Regions from separate parts of the Homo sapiens genome. Here all the other regions are linked to region 1. The links come from fine-mapping of genetic effects on gene expression. A gene starts in region 1. Each other region holds a variant in brackets. All regions are shown on one strand. Distances are between the middles of the regions.

Region 1 (5,000 bases):
TTGTATTTTTAGTAGAGACGGGGTTTCACTGTGTTAGCCAAGATGGTCTCGATCTCCTGACTTCGTGGTCCGCCTGCCTCGGCCTCCCAAAGGGATTACAGGCGTGAGCCACCGCGCCCGGCCGAAAAAGCTTTTTAAATTAGTCGGGTGTGGTGGCACAAGCCCGTAGTGCCAGCTACTCTGGGGGACTAAGACAGGAGGATCTCTTGAGCCCAGGAGTTCAGAACCAGCCTGGGCAACACAGTGAGACTTTCTCTACAAAAAATGTTAAAATTGGCTGGGCATGGTGGCACACACCTGTAGTCCTACCTACTCAAGAGGCTGAAGCAAGAGGATCGCTTGAGCAGAGAAGAATGAGGCTGCAATGGGCTATGACCACACCACTCTACTCCAACCTGGGCCACAGAGAGAAACCCTGTCTCTTAAAAATAACAAAAACTGGCCGGGCGCGGTGGCTCACGCCTGTAATCCCAGCACTTTGGGAGGCCAAGGCGGGCGGATCACGAGGTCAGGAGATCGAGACCATCCTGGCTAACACGGTGAAACCCCGTCTCTACGAAAAATACAAAAAATTAGCCGGGCGAGGTGGCGGGCACCTGTAGTCCCAGCTACTTGGGAGGCTGAAGCAGGAGAATGGCGTGAACCCTGGGGGGCGGAGCCTGCAGTGAGCCAAGATTGTGCCACTGCACTCCAGCCTGGGCGACAGAGCGAGACTCCGTCTCAAAAAAAAAAAAAAAAAAAACTAAACAAAAAAAAAAAGCATGTTGGATACAACCTACTCTCAAATAGTTCAGTAAAAAACAGTAGCACAGGTACAGCCAAGAGGAGCCTGAATAGTAGTAACATACAGCAAAAAGTTAACCCTGTAGAACCTAAGTAAAAATTAAAATAAAAAAAGACCAAGGACAACCAAATTTCTTCCGGGCAGGAAAGAAAATGGAAGCGTGGGGCAAGCAGTACAGGAGCAGGGGGAGTCTCTTCTGGAAGGCGTGTTCCACTGAGTCACACATCAGACAGGTTAGGGAGGAAGAGCCTGACCAGGGACTATCGCTGTGCCAATCACAGAATCCCCTGCGGCCTTGGTTAAGGGGATGGTTTCTGAAGCCTGGAGGCAGCCAGAGTGCAGTGCAGGGGGTGGGGACGGCCTATGGCTCAGACGGTGCTGAGCCAGCAGTGTGGAGACAGCTGCGGAGGACAGAGGGTCTAGGGAGGCCAGGCAGAGCGACAACTGATAAAGAAGCACAGGGGCGGGACCCAGGCCCAGATCCGGTCATCAAAGGAGGCCAGACTCAGGACCATGGAATACGTGCTGGGGGTGGGGGGTGGGGCGTGAGTTTGAAAATGAGGGCGCTGGTTGCTCCGGGAGCCCCCTCCACCTCAGCCAGGGAGCCTCACCTCACCTTGTGATAAACCTCCGGTGGGGAAGTGACCAGGGTGGGGCAGAAGGAGGTGACGCCGTGCGACAGGATCCTCCGGGCCACGAGGGCAACCCCCGAACCCACGTCCTCCGTGGCTTGAGAGAAGTCAACACCAAATCCACCTGCAGCCACAGAAAAGGAAGTGTCGCATGGAGCTCAGAGCTCCTCCCCTGGGTTCCCCTGCCGGCCCCGGGCCGCACCGTTGATCTGCACGTCGATGAATCCGGGAGCCAAGATGCGGCCCCCGCAGTCCCGCCGCTCGTCGGCCACGCGCCGCTCCTCAAAGAACAGCTTCTCTGGGTCCAAGATGCGGCCTCCGCGCACCCACAGATCCTCCCTGGGGACGCAGTGGGTGGGCGCTCGCATCGCGGGCCTGACCTCGGCCCCGCACCCTGCACCCCGCCCGGTCCCCGGCCCCGCACCCTGCACCCCGCCCGGTCCCCGGCCCCGCACCCTGCACCCCGCCCTGTCCCCGGCCCCGCACCCTGCACCCCGCCCGGTCCCCGGCCCCGCACCCTGCACCCCGCCCGGTCCCCAGCCCCGCAGTCCCCGGCCCGCGCCCACCTGAGCAGTTTCCCTCCGCGCAGGATCCGGCAGTTAGTGAACTGGAGCACGCGGGCCCCCGCCGCGCCCTGCTCGCCGCGCATCGTGAGCCGTGTCGGGAGCGAGCGGCTCCGGAGCCCCGCGGCGGCCAAATCCCGCGCCCAGTGACGAACCCCAGCCGAGAGCTGAGACCGCGCCCACGTGACCTTCAGCTGACTGAAGCGGCGCGCCACGTGACCGCCGCGCCCACGTGATCGAGCCAGCCCACGTGACCGGCAGCGCCCGGCGCCCGCCCGCCCGCCCGCCCGCCCCCGCCCCCAACAAGCTGAGCAGACACAGGCCCGTCACATCCAAGAACTTTATTGGACACAGCTCCGCGCAGGGCCACGGGCCCGGCGGTGAGGGCGGCTCCATCCAGGAAGTCTCAGCAACAGGAACCCACAAGGCGACACTCTAGCTAAGGTTATAGATAGCTGGGAGACAAGGGCCGCTCCGCAGACGCAGGAACAGGCCAGATCTTTATAAATAAACATCCAGTAAAGAGAAATGACAATTCTAAATCATCCGCATACACAGAGCACTCTAGGGGGTGGGGCGCCGGGGGCCTGGAGGGGCGATGAGTGGGCCCAGATGTCCACGGCACGGGGCGGGCGGGGGCAAGGCCGGGGAAACAGACGATGGGCACTAGGACACTGCGCATGTACAAGACCAACTACTGGGGGCGGCGGCCCCGTGCGTATGTGTCAGGCTGTTCGTTCTGGAATGAGGAGGGGTGGTCTTTACATAATATTCTGTGGCTGGTGGGCTCGGAGAGGGTCTACTTTGTGGAGAGGATGAGGGCGACGATGAGACCGTAGAGGCCGAGCACCTCGGCGAAGATGAGAATCAGGATCATGCCCACGAATAGTCGGGGCTGCTGGGCGGTGCCCCGCACGCCAGCGTCCCCCACGATGCCGATGGCAAAGCCGGCTGCCAGGCCGCTCAGGCCCACGCTCAGGCCGGCGCCCAGCTGGAGGAAGCTCCTGGGGGCGAGAAGAGAGGACTGACATCAGCAGCCTGCCAACCAGGGGGAGACAAGGGTCCGGGTCACCACCCACAGGTGAACCGCCCCCCTCCCTGCAGTCCTCCAGCCCTGGGCAGGGGCCTGACCCCAGTGCTCACTTGTAGAGGCTGATGTCGTCATTCAGGGAGTTGGCGATGAGGACTGCCACCACCAGGCCGTAGATGGCGATGATGCCAGCCATGACCACTGGGATGATGGACTTCATGATCTGCTCCGGCCGCATGACAGACATGGCCGCAATGCCGGTACCGCTCTTGGCTGTGCCATAGGCAGCGCCCAGGGCTGTGGGAGGAAGGCGGGGTGAGCCCACAGCAGTACGCAGGCCAGTTGAGACTAGGACCCCGAGGTGTAGCTTTGGCACAGCTCCAAGGGCCACCCCAAGTTATCACATGCAGAGGGGGAGCCGAAGAAGGCATCCAGCCCAGGGCAAGAGGACCCAGGAGGAACAGCCACGGGCAAGCAAAAGGAGGCCAGGACAGCCACTCCTCCTTCCTCTACGTGAGGCCCCCACCCTCAGAGTCCAGCTCTTCCTCCAGCAGCAGCTCTTGGGGCGGCGTGACCCATCTGGGGCTCCTGGCTCTGCAGTGAACCCACCTGTCACCCCAGGGAGCCTCAGTGCAGCCTCAGCAGCCCCCATGTGGGGTCAGGGTCAGTCGACCCTTGGGGCTACTGCCCAGGACAACATGCTGGAAAAGCCACCAAAGGTCTTGGGGATGGCAAAGCCACTGCTACAGGGTGTGACCGGAGGGTCAGAAGCAGCTGACCTGGCCACTCTTGTCACCCAGGCCAGAGCTCCCTTGACTCACTGCCCAGGCCAAGCTCCCCAACGCTCCCAGCCCCAAATATTAACCTAGGAGGGCCAAACATTCTGCCAGAAAGGGCAGCTCTCAGCACCCTCAGCCACACAGCAGGCCTGAACCCTTGACAGATTGGAGAATCTTCTCTACCAGACAGGAGACAGGGTGAGCCAAGAAGAGGATGGGGGCAGAGAAGACGACGGGGATCATCAACAGTCCAACTACGAGGCCTCAGCTGACCTCCCAGAGAGGTCTCCCCTGCACACGGGGTGGCTCCAAGCACACAGGAGCCTGGCCAGAGGGCCCAAGCCTCCCACCGCAACAGTGCTGGTGGGCTGGGCTCCAGGGTGGCCTGTCTCCTCCAGAGCTGTCCCTCCTTCCTCTCCCAAGAGAATGTTGCCTTTCTTTTCAGTTCCCCTCTCCTGGGCCCTATTCTCAAAGTGGAGAATTCTGTGGACACAGCAGTGTCACGGGGGCTCATTTGCCTTTCTGACTTCTGCCAGCTGCCCTCCAGGGCCACCACAGGGGCCTACTGAGCTGCTTGTGGGGACTGCACTGGCAACTCCCTGCCCCCTCTCTGCCCACAGAACTCATGCCATGGTCTTTTAGGGGAGCAGATCAATAACCAGCCTGACTTGGCCAGGCGCAGTGGCTCACGCCTGTAATCCCAGCACTTTAGGAGGCCAAGGCGGGCGGATCACCTGGTGTCAGAAGTTCGAGATTAGCCTGGGTAACATGGTGAAACCTCGTCTCTACTAAAAATACAAAAATTAGCCAGGAGTGGTGGCGCATGCCTGTCATCCCAGTTACTAGGGAGGCTGAGGCAGGAGAATCGCCTGAACCCAGGAGTGGAGGTTGCAGTGAGTCAAGATCACGCCACTGCACTCCAGCCTGGGCGACACAGAGAGACTCCGTCTCAAACAAACAACAAGAGTGAATCTCTGACAGACACACACACACACACACACACACACACACACACACACACAAACAGCCTGACCTGCAGAAGACTACATATGTCAGAGGTGGAAGGGACCAGGACTACCCCTACCATTCCTCTTCATATTTTATTGATATATTTGGGCCACAAAACTTGCCTACCCTGTGTCCCAGCACTCAGCAGGGGTGAGGACACAGGCGCGGTGACCTCCAGGCACAGAGACATGCTCCAGGAGAGCG
Region 2 (5,356 bases), 33 kb after region 1:
CACGGACACACCCACAAGCCCCCGTGGATTATATTCCAAGCGCAGTGGGAAACTGGCAAGGGATGGGCTCTAGTCCCTGTTCTGTTGCGGGATTTACTGAGCCTGTTGATAGAAAGCACTCAGCCCAGCCCGGCCGGCCAGGACCGCTCAGCTGCCTGAGGATGCTCTCATCCTTACAGGGTCCCAGGCCAGGTGCTAGAAAGGTGTTCTAGAATGCCTGGGACATCACGGTCCCAGCGGGTCAACACGCAGCCGGTCCTGCAGAGGGAGGTGCAACTGCACGGGCCAGGGGCAGCTCTCTCACAGGCCACCGTCCCCTCCTAATGCCTCTCTCCACAGCCAAGCTGCCCTCCATACCCAGTGCGGCTTCTTTCTCACCCGGGAAGCCTCTCCAGGGACCTACATGGCCTTTCCTCATAAACGCCACGCCTGTTTGAGAGCTCAAGGTACCTGCAGATCAGAAGCAAATGTTTGTATTCATTTGTTCGCTCGTTTATTTATTTATTTATTATTTATTTATTTTTTGAGACAGAGTCTGGCTCTGTCGCCCAAGCTGGAGTGCAGTGGCGCGATCTCGGCTCCCTGCAAACTCCGCCTACCGGGTTCACACCATTCTCCTGCCTCAGCCTCCCGAGTAGCTGGGACTACAGACGCCCACCACCACGCCCGGCTAATTTTTTTGTATTTTTAGTAGAGATGGGATTTCACCATGTTGGCCAGGCTGATCTCGAACTCCTGACCTCGTGATCCGCCCGCCTCAGCCTCCCAAAGTGCTGGGATTACAGGCGTGAGCCATTGGGCCATGCCTCATTCATTCATTTTGAGACAGGGTCTCACTCTGTTCCTGCTCCAAAGCAAATATTTCTTTCTTGTTTTTTTTTTTTTTTGAGAAGGAGTCTCACTCTGTCACCCAAGCTGGAATACAGTGGCACGATCTCGGCACACTGCAACCTCTGCCTCCCGGGTTCAAGTGATTCTTCTGCCTCAGCCTCCCAAGTAGCTGGGACTACAGGCACGCGCCACCACGCTCAGCTAATTTTTTTTTTTTTTTTGTATTTTTAGTAGAGACGGGGTTTCACCGTGTTAGCCAGGATGGTCTCGATCTCCTGACCTCGTGATCCACCCGCCTCGGCCTCCCAAAGTGCTGGGATTACAGGCGTGAGCCACCGCGCCCGGCCAAATATTTCAAAAAAAAAAAAAAAAAGCAGCCAGGTGCGGTGGCTCACACCTGTAATCCTGGCTAACATGGTGAAACCCCATTTCTACTAAATCCAAAAATTAGCTAGGTGTGGTGGCGGGCGCCTGTAGTCCCACCTACTCAGGAGGCTAAGGCAGGAGAGTAGTGTGAACCCGGGAGGCAGAGCTTCCAGTGAGCCGAGATTGCACCACTGCACACTGCACTCCAGCCTGGCGACAGAGCGAGACTCCATCCCACAAAAAAAAAAAAAAAAAAAAAAAAAAAAGCTATGTGCGAATGAGTAATGAGTATAAGCGATTTCTATTTCCCCAAAATGTTATCTTGATATGTCATCTGACGCATGTGACCACCGTGCCCTCTGGCCACAGGGCACAGTTCTGGCTCTACCACATGTGAGGAGGGGCCCTTTAAATGGCTACAGGCTTGCAGACCCCCACCCCGCCACAGCCCCAGCAGCCTTCCCAGGGAGGGCAGTTCCTGCCAGTTGACCAGTGTTCAGCCAGGAACACCCAACAGCAGCCTATGTCCTCACTCCATGGGAGCTCCAAGAAACCCCCAAATCCGTCCCTGGCAGCAAACCCCCTGAAGGCGCCCACAGGAAGAGGAAGGCGGCCAGGGCTGGGAGGCGGGCCGTCTGTCAAGAGTGTGGCACCCTGAGCTAATTTCTAGCCAGGAGGCAGGTGGGAGGTAGCATGGATGTGGGAGGAAGTAGATCCTCACTGGAGAACGGGGCAGGAGGGGCCCCAGCGGGGCAGCTGGCCCCTTCGCTCCAGCAGACAAGCAGCTCACCCCAGCCTCGGGGCGGAACACAACCCCACAGCTGCTGGCTGCTGTTGCTGCTCCATCTCCCTTCATCCTGGGACAGCGAGGACCTCCGAGAGAGGCTCCAGAGGGTCCCTGAGCACAGGCAGGACCCACGCAGGTCTGGGACTTCAGGGCACTCGGCCACTTCTAGTACCAGGGCCCTCCCACGAGTCCTGGAGACACAGGCCACCCCGGCAAGGCTGCCACTAGTAACACCACCTGCCATCCCCAAACACCAAACTCCAACACCAAACTCCAGCACCAAACTCCAGCACCAAACTCCAGCACCAAACTCCAGCACCAAACTCCAACACCAAACTCCAACACCAAACTCCAGCACAAAACTCCAGCACCAAACTCCAGGCCTGACAGCCTGAGTCACGAGGCCTCTGCACGTCTCGCTTCTTCAGAGGGGAATGTGATTTTCCCAAACAACCGGATTTGAAAACAAACTCTCTTTCATGTACAAAGACAGAACACACATTTAGCCTCATTGATGACATTTTAACACGGCCAACACCAACCCCGACACCGTGCCTCCCTTCCTGGGGACCGCTCCTGTCCCAGGTCACAGCAAACGTGAGGAGGCAGCATACGACCGCGGCTCCCTCGTCCTGCAGTTAGTCACATGACAGACCTCCACTGAGGTGCCGCCTCTGTGCCAGGGAGAGGCGGCTTGAGAGAAGGCTGTCAACCACGGCAGCTGGGGAAGTGCTAGGGGAACCCCACGGGCAGGGCTGTGCCTGCTGCTGTGGAAGGGGCGGAAAGGTGTGGAGGCAGCCTGT[G/A]GGTGGGGACGGTGCCCCTCAGATGTGGAGGCAAGAGTGGGCGAAGGCGAGCTGGGCGGCCCTGGCAGTGCTGAGGGGCTGGGATGCGCTAAGAGGCGGGTGTCCCCACACGGGGTAGGAGGAAAGTCTAGGCAGGTGACCCGATCAGATCTGCGTTTACAAAAATCCCCCTGGTGGCCCTGGAGGAGGAAGGGTTGGGACAGAGAAGCCAGGGAGAAAGGAAGGCAGAGTCTAGACCGGGAGGGTGGAGAAGATGAGGGGACCCCCAGAGATGGCTCAGGGTTGGATCCCACAGGACCGTGGCCTGACAGTGGCAGTCAGAGCCCAGGCCACTTGGGGATGCTGGAGGCGGGGGCGAGCGACAAACAGAGAATTCCAGCCCAGGGAAGCTCCACTGTGAAGTTTTCAAAGCCAGTTTCGATACAGATGCTTCTTAGGCAAATGCCAGAGCAGCTCAGGCTGGAGGTAGAGCCCTGGGGATGAGGCCCACAGCACAGAAGGCACTCCCACACACTCCCAGATGCCACCAAGGGGCCAACTGCAGCCCCCTGGGCAAGAGGCAGCCCTGTCCCAACGTAGGTCAGTGTTCGCTAGGACTCCAGGTTGAAGAGCTGGGGTTGCAGGCCTGGGCCCCATCCTGCCCTGGCCTGACCACCACACACATCCTGGCCACAAGAACAGCCCCCGTCCCAGCAGCTGACAAGCTATCAAGGACGCGGGGTTCTGTGTGGCTGGACCTCAGTCACGGGCCACAGAACAGGGCATGGGCGTCAGCTGCCGCTCGTCTCACTTCTTCCCATCTGGTCTGAGCAATCCCTCACCATTTCCTGGGAGTGGGACCGGGAATGAAGAGGAAGAGGAAATGAGGCCGGGCCCCATGGGTGGGGAACGCCAACGCCCGCAGCTAGGGACCACAGGAAGGAGGTGCTGTGGCCCCTGCGGGCTTCACGTGATAGGAGATGCAGGCTCCTCTCAGTGGGCTCCCCTGGCGGGATCCAAAACAATCTCGCTCCCCACGGAAGCCCCTGGACCTTGCCAAGTGCTGCGGGGATACAGAGGAAACCTGGTGGTGGGCTAGGGAGACCGGCAGGCCCCACCCGCTCCTGAGCACCGACCCCACCCGCCAGGCAGGGGAGGGCAGCACAGGCATTCCAGCCCGGGCGCGAGATCCGCAAGATCCAGGGATGAGAGCTTTGTTGCCTGCCAGGGAAGCTCGGAGTGCCCGGAAACCCTGGGGCACAGGCAGCAGCGGGCCAGGTGGGAATGGTAGGGACGGTGTGGGGGTGGCTGAGAGGGCCTGGAAGCGTGTCTGGACTCTTTGGAAAAACTCTCATACCACGTTTTCCTCTGCTCTGACGCCAGCACCGCAATCGGCACAGGATCTGCGACCCAGAAGATGCGGGGGTTTCTCCCGGCAGCAAGCAATCCATTCTGCAGCGGGCGCCCGCAGGGTGTCCTCCAATTCAATCCCGACACCGGGAGACATCTACCTGGAGATAGCTCAGATCCCACAAGCCCCCCACGTCTCCAGACACCAGTCAGAAGTCCAGGCCTCTGGAACTTCTCAGCAACCAACTTCAAGTTGGGGTTCCCACAACCCCTGCTTTGGGTTCAATGAATTTGCTGGAGCAGCTCACAGAACTCAGGGAAACACTTACATTCACTAGTTTATTATAAAGGTTGTTACAAAGGACACAGATGAAGAGACCTTTAGGGTGAGGTACGGGAGAGGGACACGGTGCTGCCCTCCAGGCACTCCCTCCTATTCAGCTGTCCAGAAGCTCTCCAAGTCCTGTCTTCTAGGGTTGACATGGAGCCCTTGTTAAGTAGGCATAACTGATTACCCCACTGGCAATCAACTTGACCTTCCACCTCTGGACCTCTCCCCTCCCCGCGGTTGGGGGTGGGGCTGAAAGTTCTAACCCGCTAATCCTGCCTTGGTCTTTCCAGTGACCAGCGCCACCCGGAAGCTATCAGTCAACACCAGCGCACAGAAAGAGCACCACGGAGATTCTGAGGATTTCAGGAGTTGTATGTCACTAAACAAGGACAAAGACCAAATAGATATTTCACAACATCACAGAGGTGCTGGGAGAGTAGGTGGAGGGAGGCTGGAAGAACACACTAGATGGGGCAGGGACTGGGGCCTAAAAGCAGACCTGGAGCGGGGTGTGGATGGCAGGCATGAGGGGAGAGGTGGCCCCAGCATTCAGCCCCAGGGAGGGGATGACGCCTCCTCCGGCTGGGGGACCTTCCTTGCAAGTCCACGCCAAGTCTGATTTCTTCATGAGGGGCCCAGGCCTCCCACCTACGTGCTGGGAAAGGCCAGGGAACACCTCATCCTGTCCTCCAAGAGTCTGCTGGATGCCTCAGAGACACAAATAAATCCCAGGCAGAGGCCCAAAGTGCAGACACTCCTCCTGCCATATAGCCCCACCGCCCTAGGCCTCAGCCCTGGAACAATGGAGCTGGCACAGTGGACCACGACGGAAGAGAGCCACTGGACTTGTCTGTGCACTCAGGTGTACCCGTTCTTTCTGGAACCTTCTCCTGAGTGCCTCCTAGGTGC
Region 3 (5,356 bases), 180 kb after region 1:
AAACAACTTTTCTTTGAAAAAAAGGTAAAAAGCTGACAGACAACCTGGGGAAAACACCTGTAATACATTTGCAAAAGCACCTGTTCCATTGAGCCTAGACCCCGCTTTCCACCATTGTATCACATTGATGGAGAGTTTTCCAAACACAGGAGAGAGGTTCAAATGTCAAATGTCCAATTTTCATTTCTGAAAAGAAAACTGAAGAATCATGCCCACAGAATATCATTTATGGAAAAATGATAAATAATGCTACACTTGTATAGGCTAATCTATATATGTGTGCAAATACATTTAAAAAACTTTAAGAAGCTTATTTACCAAACTATGACCATGGAGAGGAAATCAGGGAAGGGGATGGCGGTTACAAAGAATTTTGGTTTGCCTATTAGTTTGAATTTCTCAACAAGAATATATTCATGTAACACTTGTTAAATTTAAAATTAATTTGAGAGCATGCAAATCATCCATAAAAATCATCTCCTCAAAATTTCTAAATGTTTAAAACCTAAGCAAAATAACTATTTTAAAGCGAGTGATTTGGTTTAGACAAATATAGTTAGGAAACAGCTTACTTATAGTTTCTGTACTACTTAATAGTACAAAGGAAATCCCTGAATAATTGAGATAGTCCATGTATTAATGCCCATTTTTGCAACTCATAGTCTGTATTGTCTTCAATTGCTGTATCTTTGCTTCTAACAACATATTGTTGGGCACTCTGAATTCTATTAAAGTATAGATGGTGGCTTATTCACATTTTTATTTCAAGTTTCATCTGGCATATAGTAAGCACACAGTGAAAACTAAATCGAATTAAGCAACTCTGTTTTGTGAGATCCTTCAAAACACATAAATTTCATTTGTTGGGCCGGGTGCAGTGGCTCATGCCTGTAATCCCAGCACTTTGGGAGGCCGAGGTGGTGGATCACCTGAGGTCGGGAGTTCGAGACCAGCCCGATCAACATGAAGAAACCCCGTCTCTACTACAAATACAAAATTAGCCAGGCATGGCAGCGCATGCCTGTAATCCCAGCTACTTGGGAGGCTGAGGCAGGAGAATCGCTTGACCCCGGGAGGCGGAGGCTGCAGTGGGCCGAGATTGCGCCATTGCACTCCAGCCTGGGCCACAAGAGTGAAACACCGTCTCAAAAAAAAAAAATGTTCATGCGTTTGTTTCCAAAGCATACAGTATAATGCTTAGATCACTTATTGAGCCCTTGCCGAATGCCAAGGACTTTTCTAAGTCCTGTACTTTACATGTTTTAATGCATCTAATCCTCACAACAATTCTGTGAGGAATTGTTATACAATCCTCATTTTATACTAGGAAACCAAGGCACAGAAAGGTCCAGTAATTTGCCTAAAGACATTAAGAGCTGGAATTTAATCTGAGGCAATATGGCCAGAGTTCAGTTTTAACCATTACAATATAATGCTTCCCAATCACTGAATGAAAGAATATGTGTACAGCCCTTGGTCTACAATGCGTCTCTGAATTATAACATCATTCCCAGGGAAACAATCAAAGAAGCCCTATTCTAAGATACTGTATTGAATATCAGCAATTTGGGTACTGTTGTACGATACAATAGATAGACAGATAGATAGATAGATAGATAGATAGATAGATAGATAGATAGATAGATAGATAGGGTATAGTATTTGTACCCCTTCAAAGAATTGGGAGCTTATTGGTTTAATTATATCTAGCCGACTAGTATAATGGCTAGGTTTACTGCCTTTTGTGAAGCTGTAAGATTTGTTTATGAGTGTCACCATCCACTATAATGTTTACCATCAATCTTGAGAGAAAAGAAATGTTTGAACCATAGTAACTTCAAGGAGTGTATCCTTCAATTTCTCAGCATGTATTCATGGTATATGGATGTGAGTGTTTCCATATAAGAGAGGGGTAGAGTCCAGGAGCCTGAACACGGAGGTTGTCATCTCAGCTCTACTGGGTGACTCTGAAGAAATTATGACCTTATCTGGGCCTCCATCTGGAAAGAAATGACTAGGTGGAGCATCTAGGTTTGCTTTATTTTTTCAGTAGTGGGCCTTGAGCACAATGTGATGAATTATCCAGGGATTGTTGAAGGGCATCAAAAGGGTCCAGCTCACTGTGGGCAACTGTTTTTTAACAGTTCAGAGCCTGAAATTTTTGGGCATAAGATACTTTTCCCAGTGGCCTTCACACCCTCCCACCTCATGATTGTGATTATAATAATTAACAATTAACCTGGCAGAGTTAAGAAAAAAGATATAAAATTAGTACCCTGCAATTGTCTGTCTTGATCTGTAAGGTCATCCTTCTTCCAAAATTCCTACCCTATCTTCCATCTAAGGTAAATTCTGAGTCAGCCAGTTCTGGTACTGGATTTGGTTACAGAGAATTGGGATCCAGTTTTGAAAAGGCCGGAAAAACGTGCAAGGTCTAACAAATTCAATTTGGAAATGGCAAGGATTGGTTTTGGAAAGAAAAATGACTGAGGATATGACCGGGTGAAGACAGGGCCAAGCAGCCAAGTTCACATCATTTTCTGGGACGAAGCAGAGAATGGGGAAGACATTTTGGATGGGGTGTTGCAGTCTGTGAAGACTGATGGGGAAAGGGGGTTTTTAGGATGTTTGCAGCGCATTAATAATCCACTCCCCCACCCATCCTGTAACTGCATTCAATTGTTTGGGGTTTTTTTTCCCCCTGTATGCTCATTACGGAGACTAGGCTATGTAAATCCCTAGCTATACTCACATTATATACTACCATTTATTTGGCATTTATGTGTCAGGTATTGTAGTAAGCACTTAAACATGCATTTTCTCATTTGACCCAAAAAAGAAAAGAATACACCAACAAAAAACCTTTGAGTTTGCTATTATTATTAATTACTATTATTATAATTTCAATTTTAGGGATAGGAAATTGAGACTCAGAAAGATAAAATGACATGTCTACATTAATTGGTGGGTCAAGATCTGAAGCCAGGTCTCTGTGATTCCACTGAACAAATTATTTAGCATGAGCCTCCTCCGCCCCAGGCACTCTAGGACCCTGGATCTAGGCATGAACCTGACGAAGTCCCTTTGCTCGCGGAATGGGCTATCCAGAACATCATCAGAGTGAAAGGTGCTATGTACACAGTAAAATGGGGAACGAGCCGCTCAAACCCTACTCCATCAGGACTCTTGGGGGTGGGCGATTTCCGCCCCCGGCCCGGGGCGTTGCATTAGGTCGGGGCCGTCGGGTCGTGGTGCCGGCGGCTGGCTGGGCGCGGGGCTGGCGGTGCGGGTCGCAGGCGGCTCCCAG[C/A]GGCAGGACCGGCAGCAGCCCTCCCTCACCCGGGGCGCCGGGACCACGGACGCACCTCACTGTGGTCCGGCCGCTGGCGGCGCTCGGGGACCCATTGGCCCCGGCCCGCGGCAACTGTCGGCCCCGCGCGGCGCCCGCCCTCATGCTGGAGCCCGGGAGTCCCTCACTCCACCTCTCCCTGCCACGCCAAGGGGGCCCGCCCCTCCCAGGCTCTCCTGCCTGGGGCGACCCAGTCCCACGACCCGGTCCGGCCCAGGGACACCCCGACCCACCTCCCCACTCCCGTCCCGTTAGACCGCGACCCGTCCCTGGGACCGCCTAATGTGACACGCCCGGGACCCTCCCTGCAGGCGACTCCCTGCAGGGCCCCCGCCCTGGACACTCCCTCCAGGTGACCCCGTTCCGCTCGCTCCGTGAGGTGACCCCGACCCTCTCCGGACCACCTCCTCAGGTGACCCCGACCCTCTCCGGACCCTCCCCGACCCTCCCCTCAGGTGAACCCGACCCTCCCCGGACCATCCCGTCGGGTGACCCCAACCATCCCCGAACCCCCCCACCCTCCCCTCAGGTGACCCCGACCCTCTCTGGACCCTCCTCACAGGCGGCCCCGCCCCACCCCGGGACCCTCCCGCCAGGTGACCCCGACAAGGCCGGGCCCTCCTGCCTGAGGTGACTCCTACCCGGCTGGGGACCCCCGAGGCCTCCCTCGCTCCTTAAGTGAGGGCGACTCCGCTCATCCCGGGACACCGCGCCTTCTCCTGTAAACTCGACGCCTGCCCCGACGGCCGAATTCCAGAAGGTTCCTCGCCGCCGCCTCGCCTTCGGTCGCGCCCCAGCGCCCGGCCAGAGGCGGGGAAGCCCTTCCCCCGGTGCCAGGAGTGACGAGGGCCCAAGGAAAGACAGTGCGTGAGGAGAAATGGAGAAACGGCCAAAGTCGAGTTTCCGGGTGTGAAGACTTCCACTGCTGCGAAACGCACGTGCGCAGAGTCATTCCTGTCAGAGGCCACCGCGCCCTCGCTCGGCTACCGCCGCTGCGCGCCCCCTGCTGGACATAGGCGCGGGCACAGAGCAGTGCGCAAGCACGGGCTGCCGCGCGGCCGGGTGCGAACCGCGTACTCGCAGGGTGGCTGACTGCGCACGCGCAAGTCAGAGCGCCCTCTGCCGGGCATGGGCGACATGCAGGGGGCACCGCGCAGGCGCGGGGTTGGGCTGGCCGGAGCGGCCGAGGCGGCCGGGGGTGGACCGGGCACCTGCAGGGGCGGCCGACTGCGCACGCGCCATCCGCGGCGCCCCCTGCAGGAGCCGGAGCGGCCGCTGCGTCCGCCAGTAGCGGGTTGCAGGCGCACCCTCCCCTCCAGGGCGGCCACGCAGCTGTCAGTGCCGCCGCCACTGCGAGGCTGGAGCGGAGCCCGGGTGGCCGAGGGAGGGGACCCCGCGAGAGGGCCGCGCGCCGGCCGCCGCCGCCCCGGCGCCCAGGCTCGGTGAGTGCCGCCGGGACCCGCCGCTCGCGCGCTCGTTCCCGGGGCTTGCGGTCCCCACCCGGGTCCGCCCTTCCCACCCTCGCCGGCCAGCTCGGGCCTCGGGCCCCCCCCAGCTCCGGCCTGGCCTGCGGGCCCCTCCCGCGACCCCGCATCCCCTCCGGCCGCGCCCGCGCCCGCCCCTCCTGCCGCGGCCTCGGCTCCGGGCGCTCCCTGCAGGTGCCGCTCCCTCAGCGTCGGCTCCCATCCGAGCCTTGGGCGTGTCCCGCACTGCGGGCAGTGCCTGAGCCCGCGCCGCGCGGGGAAGCTCGACCCTGCGGAGACTCGGCACGGCCCGGGCCCTCTGTGTGCGCCCAGAAGGTGGATATGTAGCGACCGACAGCCCCGGCCCCGAGGGATGCAGGCGTCCGCCGCGCACTTGCGGAGATGGCGCCGCTTTCCGGCCGCAGGGATGCCGGGCGCGCGGTGGCAAAGCCGCCCGGGTTGGATTCCGCCTGCTCCCACCCTCTGGTTCCGAGGAGCCTCCAAATCCGAATCCAAGGCCCACGGTCCGCGGCGGGCGTTTGCTGCG
Region 4 (5,356 bases), 84 kb before region 1:
GAACAGCAGAGTAAGGGCTTGGGAGCGTGGAGTATGGCGGGTGGTGGGTCCCAAGCTGGGCTCTGAGGACTTGGTTGGGGGCAGTCACAGCCCAGAAGCTTAGATGTGGGGCCAGAGGGCAATCAAGCCAGCCCCTTGATGTGCGTGGCTTTCACCACCCTCCCTAACAACCCGTCTGTCAAGAGCTCCCCTCCCTACCAGATAGGATGCTTTAGCAGGGTGCTCTCCCAACCTCTCAGGCACCCAAAGCTTCTATGGTTTCTTGGGAACTCCTCCCCCTTAAATCTCCCCACCCAACCCCTCTCCAGACCCCCACACTCTGCAAGCCCAGGTGCTCACTCCACACAAGTCTAATAATCCAGGCAGGGACTCTTCCACCAGATCCATGCTTAAGTCCAACTCGAGGAATATTCTTTCCTTAATCTCAACTCTGAGGTCAGGCCTTGGAGATCTTTACAGGTGAATCAACATCCTGTTTGTCTTCCAACGTGTCATTAATGGCCTCCCACTCCTGACACCCCTTCCCCCCCTCCTCAGATTCCTCAGTCAGCATTTAATTAGGAGGAATCTCCTGGGACATTCTTTCATCAGAGCCACTGGAGACAAAACTAAGATGAAGCATTTTACACATTTCCTCATTTGATGAAAAACACCGGAAAACACTTTAGTAACGTGACTAATATGAATTAGCACTACACTTTTGGCAAATTATCTGTCACTAAAACTAACCTTATTTACTCCAATTATTGTTTTCTCCTTTTCTTTTTTCTTTTTTTTTGAGACAGAGTCTCGATCTGTCGCCCATGCTGGAGTGCAGTGGCGCAACCTCAGCCCACTGTAACCTCTGCCTCCCGGTTCAAGTGGTTCTCCTGCCTCAGCCTCCCGAGTAGCTGGGAGTACAGGCACGCGCCACCATGCCCAGCTAATTTTTTTGTATTTTTAGTAGAGACGGGGTTTTGCCATGCTGGCCAGGCTGCTCTCAAACTCCTGACCTCAGGTGATTCACGCGCCTCGGCCTCCCAAAGTGCTGGGATTACAGGCGTGAGCCACCTTGCCCGGCCCCTACTCCAATTATTGTATGAGACAGAGACGACTGTATCTGCTACTTTACCTTCATGTTCTGAATTTGAGTTTTACCATTTGGAAATCAAACCTGGTTAAATGGATGATAATGAAAAGAGCAAGTATAACACAGATATATTCAGAAAGATTAATTACCCCTCGCCCAAAGAATTGATTCCTACCGTAAAGCATTTTTTTGTTTGTTTGAGACAGAGTCTTGCTCTGTCATCCAAGCTAGAGTGCAGTGGTGTGATCTTGACTCACTGCAAGCTCCGCCTCCCGGGTTCTAGCGATTCTTCTGCCTCAGCCTCCAGAGCAGCTGGGACTACAGGCGCCCGCCACCGCGCGCGGCTCATTTTTTGTATTTTTAGTAGAGACAGGGTTTCATCGTGTTAGCCAGGATGGTCTCGATCTCCTGACCTCGTGATCCGCCTGCCTCAGCCTCCCAAAGTGCTGGGATTACACACGTGAGCCACCGCGCCCACCTTTTTGTATTTTTAGTAGAGACCGGGCATCACCATATTGGCCCGGTTGGTTTTGAACGAGATCCACCTGCCTGGGCCTCCCAAAGTGTTGGGATTACAGGCATGAGCCACCGCGCCCGGCCCATAATTTTTAACAAAGTCTTAAGGAACAGTAAAGCAAAGGGATCAACCACCTTAACTGTGCTATAGTTCATCAACTGGGAATCAAGTGCTCCAGTGCTGAATAGACAACCATTGCCTCAAAGAACCCAATGGACAAGAGCAATTTAAACTCTAATTTCATATACAAAACAGGAATGCTTGAGTAGAAAGGCAAGGGAGTGACCACTAAGCCCTGTTATTTAAAAAGAAAAACCAAACAGTAAAACACACACCCACACTTATAAAAGGAAAATCACAGCTAACAAACGCCTATTTCTATCCTGGGGATGACTGTCATTTCCTGGGAGGTCAATTCTCTGAGTAGAGGGCTTGGTCAAATGAGCAATGGAAACAGTTGGAAGTTGTGGGGAGGCACAGGAGGGTTGGCATCTCAAACCCTCATTTCCACCCACAAGGCTGCCTTAGCAGTAACTCCAGATTCTCATTTCCTGATCACGGTCATGCCATGCTGAGAATGGTCTCAGTCAGGCTTCTCAAACTTGAAGAGGGATCCGAACCTTTCTGGGAAGCCTCCTGCATGGCAAATGTTGGCTGCCAAGGCACAAAGCCAAGCGCAGTCATGTAAGCTCAACTGAAAGACCCCGCAAAGTTAGTATAAGGCTTGTGAACTGCCTTGAATAAATATAGGTAACAACTTCTTCAAACAGGCTTTTTTGTGAGTTTCAATCCTGCACAACTCCCAAGACACGGTTCCTCGGCTCCACAACTCTTGATAAATAAAGGTAGCAAAAGGTTTCTATTACCATCTACCCAACAGCATGAGCATTTCGCTTGATGAAAGACAAGCTGCAAACTAACCTGGAAATTCCTGTCCTTTTGCGAAGACAGTGGGAAAACTAAGCCAATTAGAAAGC[A/G]GATTGAAAGATTCCTTACCTGGCCCTTCCTGGACATCCCTAAAGCAACCCTTAATATGAGCAAAATCCCCTTCGAAAAATCACAGTATATACTATGGACGCATCTTCTAAGAGGTGCTGAGTGGGTGCTGCGTGCTGTGGATGGAAAGGATGGAGCGCCAACTCTCTAAATACAAGTCACCAGGGAAAAAAAGGGCCGCCCATATCAACCCCCACGTCAGCGTTAATTCAAACGTCCAGAATGTGAAACGCCAAGGGTTCTGTCTCCAGAGCCAGCAAGTACCCTGGGACAGAGAAGAGAAGGCGTTCACACACCCTGGGCAAAAGAACCTAGTGAGAAAAAGAAAGTAGAATCACAGCAAAGTCCGGGGTCTCGGAAGCCTCCTCCACCAAAGAGCAAAGAGGGCGAGGAAGAGACACCCCCAAGGTGAAGCGACTCAGGATTCTCAAAGGCAGTGGACACCAGGGCGCCATCCTTGCCCTCCCCTCCCAGGATAGGGGATCGGGGCAAGCTGGGGATGAGCTGGCGACAAGGGAGTGTTGGGCTCGAAGCCCGAGGAGAGTCGCCCTCTCCTGCTGAGCTCTCCTCGGCGTGGAGCAGGGCGTGTGCGGCGGCCACAGGCCGAAATGGCCCAGGCCCTTTCGACTGGCCCACGTGGTCCTCACCTTGTCCGAGTCCGGGTCGGGGTCGGCCTGGCTCAAGAGGTACAGGAAGGATTTCGGGTCCTGACACAGCGGCGTCTGCCCAGTGGTGAGGAAGTAGGTGCCGCCGCTGTAGAGCCGGACCCACTTGGACCTGCTGCTGGGGCGCTGGGCCAGGACGCTGAGCCCCGCGCTTTAAGGGAGGCACAAGAAGCCACCCCAACCCCGCCCCGAGCCTGCCACGGGCCAGCGGCAGGAGCTCGCAGTGATTCCCCGCCATGATCCCAGCAAGCCCCACCACACCTCCGCTTCACCGGAAGAGTCCGGCTTTTAATATCGCCCTTTGCGTTCTGTCCCGCCCACTGGTCAGCCCTTGTAGAACACCCGCCGGTCACATGGCAGGCGGAAGTTCCATCCGGGAAAAGCAGCCGGCTGGTCCCACTTCCGGAGGGAGTGAAACCGAGCTTGGGGCGCCAACGCTAGCGGGCAATGGCAGACACCCGCCCCCAACCGCGCCCCCACTCCGTGGCGGGGTCAAAGGAAGAGCCACGCCAGCAAACCTCTACACTCTACATGCTTTTTATTACAAGACTACTGACCATACGAGGAAAATTCATCATCTGGTAACTACACCTAAAGCACAAGTATTTGGAAAAAAAAAAAGGATAAACAGATTCATTAAATTATATGATTAAATCACTGACCCAATAGAAAATTTATATAATAAAGCCAGAAAAAAAGTTGTAAAATATAGTTTACAATAATTATTCACATTCAAGGCTGTACATCAATACATACAACAACGTGGCCCCGAACATGAATTCAATTCAAATAATTCATATATTAGAATTTAAATAACACAGACTGAACTAGAGGCCAACAATAGCCAGCAAATAACCTTATATAAGAATAAAAATACAAAAGTGTATATCCTAGTATCATTGCATTTGTTTTCATAAGTTCTTTTAATTTTTGCTTTGTCTGTACATCACAGTTACAGCTACAGACCAGGTAGAGAATATTACGCATGTTCTGCTTGCCACCCACCTGAAAGACGTACTAGTCATTTATCCTATTTTATGTTGTGAAGGAACAGCTACAGCAGCTCTAAATACTGTAACAATTTAATTTTGCCAACATCCAACTTACTTACAGTCGTAATAGAGGCTTTTACCAGCACAATGACCCCTATTCGTAGTCATTCTGCCAGGTGGTTAGGCTATGTGGGTTACACAGCTTAAAAAAGGTCTGCCTTTTGTAAAAAGTTCTCTGTACATAGTTTGGTGTTTCTTCATATGGAAGAAATGAGTTACGGGGAAAATTCAGGTACACACGTAGGCTCGTTCAGTTGCTCACCACAGCCATCTCAACAGATGAAAGTGCTCTTTGTTGGAAACAGCTTCCTCCTCACACCAGTTCTCCACAGGCAGCCTCATCTACAACCCTGCAATTTTGGGCCAGAAGTGGTGGCCCCTCAGAGGCTCTGAAGTGCCTCCAGCCCCGATTCAGGCACTTGCCACGTGTGCTGCGTAAGAAGGGACCCCCACCCAGTGAGTCAACATAGGCTCATGTCAAGTTTGAAAATAACTGGGGAAAAGTGTATGACAACATCTTCCAGAACAAAGTACCTTCACCGTATTCTCACAGCAGCTGCGATCTCTGAAGTCTCAGCAGTGACCACCCCGGGTCTGTCAACCAGCCAGGCAAGGGGGGGCCCTCAGGCTTCAGAGGGCAAGAAACCAAATTCCGTGCAATTTGGCCATAATCTCTGGTAGAGTGAAGCAGCACTGAACACGGTGCCTAGAAAAACCTCCTGCACGTTCCCCTGCACAATCAATGGACCCCAACTACAGTGGAGAAATGAAGAATCCAACCAAATTTGGGTGGTCTGGACTTGCTGCCAGCCAGGCAATCTGCAACACTGTGGGCAGGGAGTTGGGGGGGGCGGCCTGAAATCTACACCAGCTGGGACAACCACGCCCTACAATGAAAAAGCCAGCCTGGCTGCTGGGCTCTTGTGAACCACTAAGACCTGAAGGTGGGGCCCCACGGGTGGAAGGGGGAGACAAATGCACTCTTGTAAAACCCAATCAGCTACGTGGTTTTTTTCAAAGAGGCTTTGCTCTGCTACTGATTCCAAATGTCCTAATA
Region 5 (5,193 bases), 72 kb before region 1:
GTGCCCGCCAGGCTAATTTTTTTGTATTTTTAGTAGAGATGGGGTTTCACCCTGTTGGCCAGGCTGATCTCGAATTCCTGACCTCAAGTGATCCGCCTGCCTCGGCCTCCCAAAGGGCTGGGATTACAGGCATCAGATACCGCGCCCGGCCCCAAGATACTATTTTAATGTCTGCAGTTTACCTCATGTGGTTAAAGCTAACAGTTACTGGTTTGTGTTCTATCTGATCTTACGGAAATTCCTGATCTGAGGTTCTACTATAGAAATAATATGCAGTTTGTTTGTTTGTTTGGTTTTTTTGAGACAGAGTCTCGCTCTGTCGCCCAGGCTGGAGTGCAGTGGTGTGCCATCCTGGCTCACTGCAACCTCTGCCTCCCGGATTCAAGTGATTGATGCTCCTGCCTCAGCCTCCCAAGTAGCTGGGACTACAGGTGCGCACCACCACGCCCAGCTAATTTTTTGTATTTTTAGCAGAGATGGGGTTTCACTATGTTAGCCAGGATGGTCTCAATCTCCTGACCTTGTGATCCACCCACCTAGGCCTCCCAAAGTGCTGGGATTACAGGCATGAGCCACCACCCCCGGCCAATAATATGTTTTATATTTGAAGAAGGCATAAGATGATCAAATCAATATCTGAGCACATCCACACGCCTGCCTGGCTGCACACAGGGCCAACAGCACTTGTGAGAAGACCGGACTGGCCGAGTTGGGGGCACAGCATCTTCCCCCAGGGCTTACCCAGCCCCACCATCTGACCCACCCAGACCTGGGCAGATCAGTGCCCAGGCCTGCCCCAAGAGGGAGGACCCAGGGCCTGGCCTCACACACACATCCCATCCTGTGGGTCTGAAGCAAGAGGAGTGTGTGGCATGCGGGCAAGTGCAGCCCTCCTCTCGCACCAGGGACTTCGCCTGCAAACACACACAATGTGGGTATTAAAACAAAGAGAAACAGATCAAGGAGGTTCCTGAAAAGGACATGTGATGAGGAAGACCCACCACAGCACAGAAAGCATAGAGCACAGAAATGCCTGGAGGGACCACAGAGCCGGCAGGAAGCCACTCTGACAGACAGGCCTGTGACCAGGCAACAGCGCAGAGGAACAACAAAGGAAAATTCATCATAAATTACACCGGGGCAGGCAGCGTGGGAGGCACAGGGTCCCTTTGAGCCCAGGCCAGTCAGAGCTCTTGCAGGCAGATGAGGACGGAGAGGGCCCCACGGCCTCTCCCCATCCTCAGCTTTCACCACACGCCAGCAAGTGCCAGAAGAGGTGATGAGATGCATGGTTTAAAATACCAACTCGAAGGAGAGAAAAACCAGAAGAACACAGCAGCCCATCCCTGCAACCTGTGTGGGAGGGGCCGCCTTCCTGGCTGAGAGCGAGAACAGCAGCCCAGCACTGAGCTGTGGGAGCCACGGAAAGAGGACGAAACCACCTCCACCTAAAAAACCACCAGGACCACAGCTGGGGCGGGAAAGGACTTCCAGATACAGCCGCCATGGGCCATCAGCTGCACCCCACAGCAAATTCACAGTGCCACGAGAGGCTTGGAACCCAACAGAAAACTCAACAAAATGACACAAACTAAAAATTCCCAGAAGAGGAATTCAGTGACACAAGAAACTCTCAATGGCCCTAAATGAAGACATTGAGCTGGGCCGCTCCACCCTGATCATCTGGGCATGCCACAGGCACGGGCGTGCAGGAGTGGTGCTCCCGCTCGGCACCTGCAGCCTGGGGAGGACTCACTGAGGAAGCGATTCGGAAATAGTACTGAGAAGTAGCCTCGCTTCCAGAAATCCATCCTGAGAAAAAAAAAGGCCACAGGCAAGGAGCCCAGAGGCACTCCCAGCAGTGTCACCCATGCCAGGGACACTGAAGCCCCAGAGTGGCTCAGTGACAGAACACGCCAGCACCACGGGGAGGCAGGCAAGGGCCCCACGGACAGGCGCCACCCACCCCCGCGCCAGCATCCCCTGAGAGAGACAATGAAATGGACAATTCCACTCCCCGGTGGCCCAGGGTGCATGGACAGAGACTGCGGGCAAAGCTCCACTGGCGGCATCTAGAGCACAGCGTGTGTGCAGCGGATTCACCTGCCAGCTCACGACAGAAACAGCTCCTTGCTGTGAGCACTTCCAGGAATCACCTTGATTTTTTTTTTTTTTAAGACAGAGTCTCGCTCTGTTGCCCAGTCTGGAGGGCAATGGCACAATCTTGGCCCAGTGTAACCTCTGCCTCCTGGGTTCAAGCGATTCTCCTGTCTCAGCCTCCTGAGTAGCTGGGATTACAGGTACCCACCAGTAGGCCCAGCTAATTTTTGGTAATTTTAGTAGAGACAGGGTTTCACCATGTTGGCCAGGCTGCAATCACCTTGATTTTCTACTGTCTCCTGCAGAAAATCCCCTGCCCTGAGAGCCCTTTCCTCCCTGGGAGGCTGGGCAAGAGCTGAAGACCTGGAGACACACCTAACTACTCGCCATGCACACGGGACTTTCCCGAGGCACCTCACTCTCATACACCGCCATCTTGGCTCCCTCAAAACAGGCGACACCTCTCCCCACCTCTGCACAGAGGAGGATGCAGGGCAATCCACAAGGGGTGACCATAGAAAACCCCCTTTCCCGATGCCAAAGCGCAGGTTCTTGCCACCTCCTCCACCCTCCCTCACCCAGACCCCAAAAAGAGCATTGTCAAGGATCCAAGCCCAAAGCCACTGGCAAAGCACCTGCCACGCCCAGGAGAGCCCCAGCAAGGACCCAGAGCCCCGCTGGAGGCTTTTCCACCCCTCGGGAGGGCTCTGCAGGCTCAGCTTCACTGCCAGTAAGGGCGGGAGCCA[G/C]TGGCAATGGCGGACGGGCCCCAGGTTTCCTCTCCAACCTTCCAGTCCTATGGCCCCTCACACTCTTTACCTCTGTGGAAGACCCCAAAGAGCTTTCAGATCAACTGATATGTACTACGCAGGAAATTAAAACTGAGACATTTTCAAATGTTTAATTCATTAAAATACAATAAACCCATTACTATTAACATACATTACTTTTATTTTTAAAATAACTACTTTCCAAAACAAAAATAATGAATGAGGAGAGTGTGCCACTCTGTGCGCTGCACAGGCCTCTCCTGTTCGGCTGATAAGGAGAGTGCTGGGTCCCCGCATCCACCTGCGCCCATACTCTGCTGAGATCTGTGTTCAGGCGGAAGAACACGGCAAACACCCAGCCTCACTCAGATAAACAGCTAGAAAAGGGAGGAGTATACTCAGCCTTTTTAGAGACTGGAGTCACTTCCTGGCCTTTTGGCTAAGAATAAGTGTAGATGTTTGTGGATATTCTTCTTGGACACTACACTGCAGTTCAGAAGGTGGTGGCTGCTTAAAGCTCGGTTGCAATGTGAAATCTGACTCGTAACAATACATTTCCACACACCGTGACACTAAAAACCATCAATCTACCCTGCACTAGGGGCTCTTCTACCCTCATGTGATTTCATAGGGTCATACATGGGGGCTGAATGATGTAAAGCTTCCAAACGTTGACAAATTTCATTCTACGGTTTCCACAGATCAATTCATGGATATCACTATGTATCAAATGACTTTTGGCCTCTAATCCCAGCACTTTGGGAGGCCGAGGCAGGTGAATCACTTGAGGTCAGGAGTTTGAGACCAGCCTGACCAATATGGTGAAACCACGTCTCTACTATAAACACAAAACTCAGCCGGGTGTGGTGGTACACGCCTGTAATCCCAGCTCCTCGGGAGGCTGAGGCAGGAGAAATGCTTGAACCTGGGAGGCGGAGGTTGCAGTGAGCTGAGATTGTGCCACTGCACTCCAGCCTGGGCGACAGAATGAGACTCCGTTTCAAAAACAGAAAAAAAAAAAAAAAAAGACTTTTGGCCTGGTGCAGTAGCTCACGCCTGTAATCCCACCACTTTGGGAAGTCATAAGCGAGAGGAATGCTTCAGCCCAGCAGTTCGAGACCAGCCTGGGTAACATAGTGAGAGCTTGTCTCTTTCTTTTTAAAAAATAATATAAACAAACAAAAAAACATAGCTAAAAAAAGTCTTTTATTGGGAAGGTATCAGGCTCACAGTAATGAATAAAGTTTTCCAAAATTCCAATTTTCACTTGAAGGTTTCAATGTTATCACTGACATAAATACAGGCAGTTGTTTTCCTTAAAGTAACAAGCTCATTCCAATCATTTTCAAGAAAAATACTGGCCAAATAGCTAAGTCTGCATAACGGCGGTTTGCCCGTCAGCCAGACGCTCCGCGAGGACAGCAGGCCAACAGCCACAAGCGTGTCTCCCCTGAGATGGCTGCACACTCATGTTTGCGGCAGAATTGAGTGCCCTTCTGTATACTTCCCACTTCATCCCACAAAGTATTCACAACATTCAACATTTTTAACAAAGGCTCAGAAGCGAGACTGGTTTCTTTCCTCTCTCTCTTCCTGTGGGTGAGTGCTGTGAAGATATGACTATTGCCCTGGCACTGCTTGGTGCCATGGCCTCAAGTCATAGTGAAACCCTGTCTTCACTAAAAATACAAAAATGAGCCAGGCACGGTGGCACACACCTGGTAATCCCAGCTACTTGGGAGGCTGAGGCAGGAGAACTGCTTAAGCCCAGGAGGTAGAGGTTGCAGTGAACAGAGATCACTCCACTGCACTCCAGCCTGGGCGACAGAGGGAGACTCCGCCTCAAAAAAAAAAGAACATCATCCGTGATGAGAAGCCAGGGGACACAGGCCAAGCGACAGGTCCAGGCTGTCTGTAGACTCATCCACTGTGAGGCAAAAGCACAACTCAGCAGCAGACATGTCAACTCCCTCTTCGTGCCTGCAGTCGTATCTTGAATCCAGCAAGTTTCGACTGCATTGTGGACTGTGGCAGCACAGGATGACCAAGCCTGAGGCTGTGCTGCAGCCGGAGGCTTTGTCTCTCAGCTACCGTGTGGCCTCTCCAGCCTCTACAATGCAGCTTCTAAGAGCTTCAGTGACTCTTTAATTTATTGTCTGAAAAGCTGTTACAAACAACATTGGATTTTAAAGAGCTCATCACACATATTTTTGAAATGTTCCTTTTAAGTGTAAACTATTCCATGTAAATTTAAAAATTCCTTTTACCTTTTTTTTTTTTTTTTTTCCAATTTTGAGACAGGGTCTCACTCTGTCACCCAGGCTGG
Region 6 (5,356 bases), 64 kb before region 1:
TGTCCATACCACAGTGACTCCATGGCCACAACCAGCAGGTCCAAATGCCCGGCAGAGGAGGGGAGCGCCCGGCGGTCACAACCCACTCAGCCCCTGGGCCGGCTGCCTCCTAAGCACCTGTTTCCAACTGTGCACTTACGATGTGCTCCTTGGCCAAGCGTCCAAGGCTGCTGAGGGAGGCAGTGACAAGGCAAAGGCACCCACCATAAGCCCCCACGTGTTCACGCTGCAATTCTGCAAAAAGCATTGCTTATGTCCATAAGTTCTTACCAAGGGTTTCCGCCAGCCTGCTTCTCCAACAACAACCTCTTCTCATCTTCGGAAAACTGTAAGTCCAGTTCAAAGGAGTTCGAGTCCAGATCGTGAATGTACTGCTCTATGTTGCTGCCTGACCTCTGGGGCAGGCCCGTGTCGGAGGCTGACAGGGAGTGTGAGGAGGAGGACGAAGACACCTGCATGCAGCCAAACTGGCTCAGGAGATTGTCATACTGCAGAGAAGAAGGGAAAGTGAGAACCGCACCTTCACTTGCCTCTAAGGTCCTAAAACCCCAGCCCCTCCCGCACTGCCGCTGTCAGGCCTTGGGAGCTCGCACACAGCAAGGCGCAAGGCGACAGGGTGGGCAGCCCTGATTCTCCTCCATGGGACACCTGGCCACAGAACCGAGGCCTCACTGGATCCTGCCTGGTCGGGCTCCTCTTCCCATGGGAATCAGGGCCAGAGAGGGGCGAAGCCTCAGATTTCCTCTCCAGGAAGAGGGGACCTGGGCCCTTACCCTGCGGGCCCCGTGAATGCCAGTGCTGCCCCCCGGAGGTGGGGGCTGGGATGCCTGCTGGGAAGAGAAGGGGCCCAAGGAGGCCTGGTGGCAGATCCATCACACAGGCTGGCAGACAGGGCCTCCGTGCAAGACCTTGTTGGGCCCCAGGTGTCTTAGGAGTCTGAGTCTGTGGTAGATGCTAAATATTTTGATTTGACTAAACACATTCAATTGTTTAAAAGACATTCCTCTTAATCCCAGCAAAGATAAACTAAACTTACTGTAGATAACGCTGCCTGTTACTCTAGGAAAAAGACAAGCTAGTGTCGACAACGGAAACTCACTCATAAACGTGCCAAGCGGACACAGCCTGTGCACTAACACGCTCCTGGCACTGCCAAGGCCAGAGAGTCCCTGGGCAAGGGAAGCCACCTCCCCGGCTGCAGGCCCCACATCTGAGCTCTGTGGAGGCCAAGGACAAGGGGAAAGAAAAGGTGCCACGAGCAATGGCTAGGATAAGAGTGCGGCATGCCCTTCCACGTCCTCCGTGCCTCCAGACGCAGGCCCTGGCTGCTGCCCCACGCAACCATCCACACATGCAGCGTCCCCCATGTGTTCACACTCCTACAGCTGCACCACAGCCCCGCCTCACAGCCCTAAAGCCTCGCACCCAGCTGGGCTGGAGCAAGGTGCTCGCCAACGGGCATGGTGGAAACGCCCGACGCTGCCGGCCCCTCCACGCCGGCCCCTCCACGCCGACCCCTCCACGGGGTGTGGGCCTGCCCAGCCTGCTTGTCTCCAACACTGCCCAATGGTCACACTGCCCCGGCACTTACAGGACCTCAGGAGAGCAGGAGCCAACGAAGCACCTGCTCTCCTGCCTTGGCCCAAGGGCAGGTACCATGGCCAACCTCCCTGGCTGAAGGGGACGCCCAGTGCCCATTCCCCATGAAGGAGGGGGTGCGGCCCTGCAGGGAGGGAGGAGGTACAGCCCTGAAGTCTCCTTCCATGCTTGACACCGTTTGCCAAGACTCACTCACTGTCCCCGTGTGAGGTCTGGCCTGGGAGCTCCCTGCCTGGACCCACTCCAAGGCTTTCAAACCACACAGCTGTGCAGAGCTAAGGATGGGCCATCTAACAGGCGGCTGCCAACAAATGGAGCCTGGCTTCACAGACGGCAACAGAAGCCACGTATCAAGCAGCCCCAGCTCTCAGTAGGCCCAGGCACAGGGGCCTGCACAGGTATGCGGCAAGTGCAAGCACACACACCCCCACACTCAGAGAAGCTCCCCAGGCATTGAGACTGGAGACAACTGAAGCCTGTGCTGCTCCTTCAGAGCCCAGCTACCTCCCTGGGAGCAATGGAGCACAGAGCCCACGGGAGAACGGCCACCAGCCAGTCGCGAGCAAAACCTCTGCAGCAACAGCAGGCCCAGCAGGGAGAGCACTGCAGCCCCGTGGCACCTGCCAGCCGTAACCAAACACCACGCAGGAGCAGCTGAGTGGCACACAGGGTGGGGGCAAGGGCCT[C/T]GAGGCTCCCAGGCCTCTGCATACATGAAAGCTGCAGGTGGCCACATCAAGCGGCACAGACTCCGCTCCCCAAGCCTGGCTCCCTTAGAGTTTGGGCTCAAAGGATGTCGGGAGGATGAGGGGCGTTACACAGCAGGTAGGGGCGTTGGGAAACTTTGACACTAGCAGAAATTTAGCTGTGGATGACTTTTAGATAAAATCTAGAATTCCCAGCTGGGTGCAGTAACTCATGCCTAAAACCCCAGCAGTTTGGGAGGCCGAGGCGGGTAGATCACTTGAGGTCAGGAGTTCCACACCAGCCTGGCCAACACGGCGAAACCCTGTCTCTACTAAAAATACAAAAATTAGCCGGGCATGGTGGTGCACACCTGCAGTTCCCGCTAGTCGGGAGGGCGAGACAGGAGAATCGCTTGAACCCACAGCGGCAGAGGTTGCAGTGAGCCGAGATCGCGCCACTACACTCCAGCCTGAGTGACACACCAAGACCCTGTCTCAAAACAAACAAAATCTGGACTTCCTCAGTCATGGAAAGTGGAACTCCGTACACGGTGCCAGTTAGAATAAGCCATGGCGACAGAAGTCAAACCAGAAAAATGGATCTCATGATAACAGCACTTAAGTACGAGGGGGTCACGGGGGAGGTGGCAAGAGGAACTCAGAGGAAACAAGGCTGAAGTGGGCGACATGCCTGCCTCTCACAACACCCTCGGTCCCTTGGGCACATGGTCCACGCTCTCTACGAGAAGCTTAAAGAGCCAAGCGTGCTGAAGACCCCATGGCTGTGGTCAAGCTGGGAGACCAGCAGCCTCAGAGCCTACTCAGCACTGAAGAAGGTACCAGTGTCCCCACCAACGCCACGTCCCAAAAGTTCAAGCACACAACACTCGGGGGTTTCTGTGGAAAGACAGGCAGTGTTCTGGAGCATCTTGGCCGCACAGTTGTACAAGCACCAAGCCAAGCGCAGATGCGACAGGCCGGGCAGGAGGCCCCGTACGTGGGACCCCGGGGCCAGTGCCGGGGGTGCTCGGCGTCCGGTTCTAGCGGCACCCTGTGGGTGGAAACTCACTAGCCTGTCCACGGCCACGGAAATGAGGAGAAAATGACCCACCCAGCACCTCACCCGCCACTGCCTCACGGCAGCAAAGACTACAACCACCAGCAGGCCTGCCGCAGTGGCACAGACACCCTCCCCTTTCGGCTACAAATCACACGTGGGTCTGGCGCACGGGCATGAAGCCCAGTGCACGGAGGACCCAGTGCCACCTGCCTCGCCCGCCATCCCGGCCAGCTTACATTGCCATAGCAGTCCTCGTCGTCTTCCGACATAGCCGGCAGGTAAGCGGTGAGCTTCGGAGGCGTCTGCTGGTGCAGGTTCTCCCACGTGACGGACTCGAAGAACGGGTGTGCTTTAAGAGGTCCGTATCCTTCCATTTCCTCACAGCCTAACCGCTTTGTGGCATCTAAAACCTTAAGTAACAATCAAGACAAGTCACTGCCAGGGTGAAAACGTGATTCTGACCAAAGAAACCCAAACCTGGTAGCCGGGCACGGTGGCTCATGCCTGTCATCCCAGCACTTTGGGAGGCTGAGGCGGGCAGATCACCTGAGGTCAGGAGTTCGAAACCATCCCGGCCAACATGGTGACAACCCGTCTCTACTAAAAATATAAAAATCAGCTGCGCGTGGTGGTGCACGCCTATAATCCCAGCTACTCGGGAGGCTGAGGGAGGAGAATCGCTTGAACCCGGGAGGCAGAATTTGCGGTGAGCCACGATCGCACCATGGCACTCCAGCCTGTGCGACGAGAGCAAAACTCCATCTCCAAAAAAAAAAAAAAATATATATTTATCTCATCTCATCATAAGTCCCTTTCCATTTCCAAGTGCCTGATTCTTGACAGGAAATGACTGTAGCAGGAATAATAAAAGAAACTAAAATTTAGAAATCAACGGAAATTACTGTACCATTTAGCATTTGCTCAACACTGCACAGCATTTTAAGTTACTGGTGCTGGAGCGACTGGGGTTATGACAGCGCAGATGGCTGCAGACCCTAGTTCGTGACATCTGTACATTTCAGCTTTAGAGTCAGCTACATGAAAATTCGAACGACCAGCCCAGGTAAAACAGAGAAGAGAGGTTAGCCTGGGAAAGGTGTATCAGTTTATATTCTAGAAACAGAAGTCTCCTGACCTTCCTGTGCTTTTGGCCCTGGACGTCCCTCCTTACCACGACTCTGGGAGCGGGCTCAGTCCTGCCCCTGCAGGTGGCCCCGGGATCGCTAGGCTCCACAGCCACTGGCTTCTCCCAACCTGTCTCACCTCTTTCCCCTGGGCTGGGGTGTGGGCTTGATCAGTCCCTGGAGGAGACAGCTCTGCGGCCTTCGAGGGTCCCAGCGACACCCACTCCACAAGCGCAGGAGCGTGCTGGTCCCAGTGATGATTCGCTCCCTTTGTTAATTACTCAGTGTTTCTTGTTTTAGGATTTTTAACTATACACTGTAAAAGAATCCTTGCTGCTGTTCATTGTGTTTTGAGACTGAGATTCCTTTTCACCTGTGCGAGGAAAGGGGCCGAGCCTTGAGGGGCAGCACAGGATCCCAGGGCCTGCCTCCCCGTCCAGTTGCTCTGCGGTGGATGGAGGGGGCGGGGGGGCGGGGAACAGTACGGGGTGCTCTCCAGCAGATACTGAGAAGTGACAATAAGTACTCAAAACGTTTGGGTTTTGTTTGTTTGTTTGTTTGTTTGAGACTCTCGCTCTGTCGCCCAGGCTGGAGTGCAGTGGTACGATCTCGACTCACTGCAACCTCCGCCTCCCGGGTTCACACCATTCTCCTGCCTCAGCTTCCCAAGTAGCTGAGATCGCAGGCGCCCGCCACCATGCCCGGCTAATTTTTATATTTTTACTAGAGACGTGGTTTCACCATAGAGGCCAGGCTAGTCTCAAACTCCTGACCTCAGGTGATCCACCTGCCTCAGCCTCCCAAAGTGCTGGGGTGACAGGCGTGAGCCAATGTGTCTGGCGAGACTAGGTGTAATGATCCACACTCACTGTTAACCCTAAAAACACCAT

The links.
Region 2: its variant is fine-mapped to the expression of AMDHD2 in lung (TOPMed, PIP above 0.99). The same link has a PIP of 0.9 or more in monocytes, nasal epithelium, pancreas, tibial nerve and whole blood.
Region 3: its variant is fine-mapped to the expression of AMDHD2 in whole blood (TOPMed, PIP above 0.99).
Region 4: its variant is fine-mapped to the expression of AMDHD2 in blood mononuclear cells (TOPMed, PIP above 0.99). The same link has a PIP of 0.9 or more in T cells and whole blood.
Region 5: its variant is fine-mapped to the expression of AMDHD2 in whole blood (TOPMed, PIP 0.97).
Region 6: its variant is fine-mapped to the expression of AMDHD2 in whole blood (INTERVAL, PIP 0.99).

Annotation. Positions count from the first base shown.
Region 1 is chr16:2,517,524-2,522,523 of GRCh38, reverse strand. It overlaps AMDHD2 (amidohydrolase domain containing 2), which reads right to left and starts at 2,153. Exons shown (of 11, transcript NM_001330449.2): 1 at 1,983-2,153; 2 at 1,619-1,755; 3 at 1,401-1,540. The coding sequence starts at 2,065. It overlaps ATP6V0C (ATPase H+ transporting V0 subunit c), which reads right to left. Exons shown (of 3, transcript NM_001694.4): 2 at 3,123-3,306; 3 at 2,306-2,983. The coding sequence ends at 2,779. RefSeq lists silencers at 1,938-2,007, 2,178-2,287.
Region 2 is chr16:2,484,601-2,489,956 of GRCh38, reverse strand. The region is part of intron 1 of TBC1D24 (TBC1 domain family member 24); the gene reads right to left. Among named protein-coding and RNA genes, the nearest start is that of TBC1D24, 12 kb to the right of the region's middle. The variant G/A (reference allele first, on the strand shown) is at 2,788.
Region 3 is chr16:2,340,005-2,345,360 of GRCh38, reverse strand. ABCA3 (ATP binding cassette subfamily A member 3) reads left to right here and starts at 4,633. Exons shown (of 33, transcript NM_001089.3): 1 at 4,633-4,788. It also overlaps the pseudogene ABCA17P. RefSeq lists silencers at 4,323-4,782, 4,953-5,012. The variant C/A (reference allele first, on the strand shown) is at 3,308.
Region 4 is chr16:2,601,601-2,606,956 of GRCh38, reverse strand. It overlaps PDPK1 (3-phosphoinositide dependent protein kinase 1), which reads right to left. Exons shown (of 14, transcript NM_002613.5): 14 at 3,769-5,356. It also overlaps the pseudogene LOC652276. Among named protein-coding and RNA genes, the nearest start is that of FLJ42627, 35 kb to the left of the region's middle. RefSeq lists an enhancer at 3,046-3,385. The variant A/G (reference allele first, on the strand shown) is at 2,564.
Region 5 is chr16:2,589,657-2,594,849 of GRCh38, reverse strand. The region is part of intron 11 of PDPK1 (3-phosphoinositide dependent protein kinase 1); the gene reads right to left. Among named protein-coding and RNA genes, the nearest start is that of FLJ42627, 47 kb to the left of the region's middle. The variant G/C (reference allele first, on the strand shown) is at 2,847.
Region 6 is chr16:2,581,808-2,587,163 of GRCh38, reverse strand. PDPK1 (3-phosphoinositide dependent protein kinase 1) reads right to left here. Exons shown (of 14, transcript NM_002613.5): 10 at 3,579-3,752; 11 at 271-488. Among named protein-coding and RNA genes, the nearest start is that of PDPK1, 46 kb to the right of the region's middle. RefSeq lists an enhancer at 1,419-1,920. The variant C/T (reference allele first, on the strand shown) is at 2,286.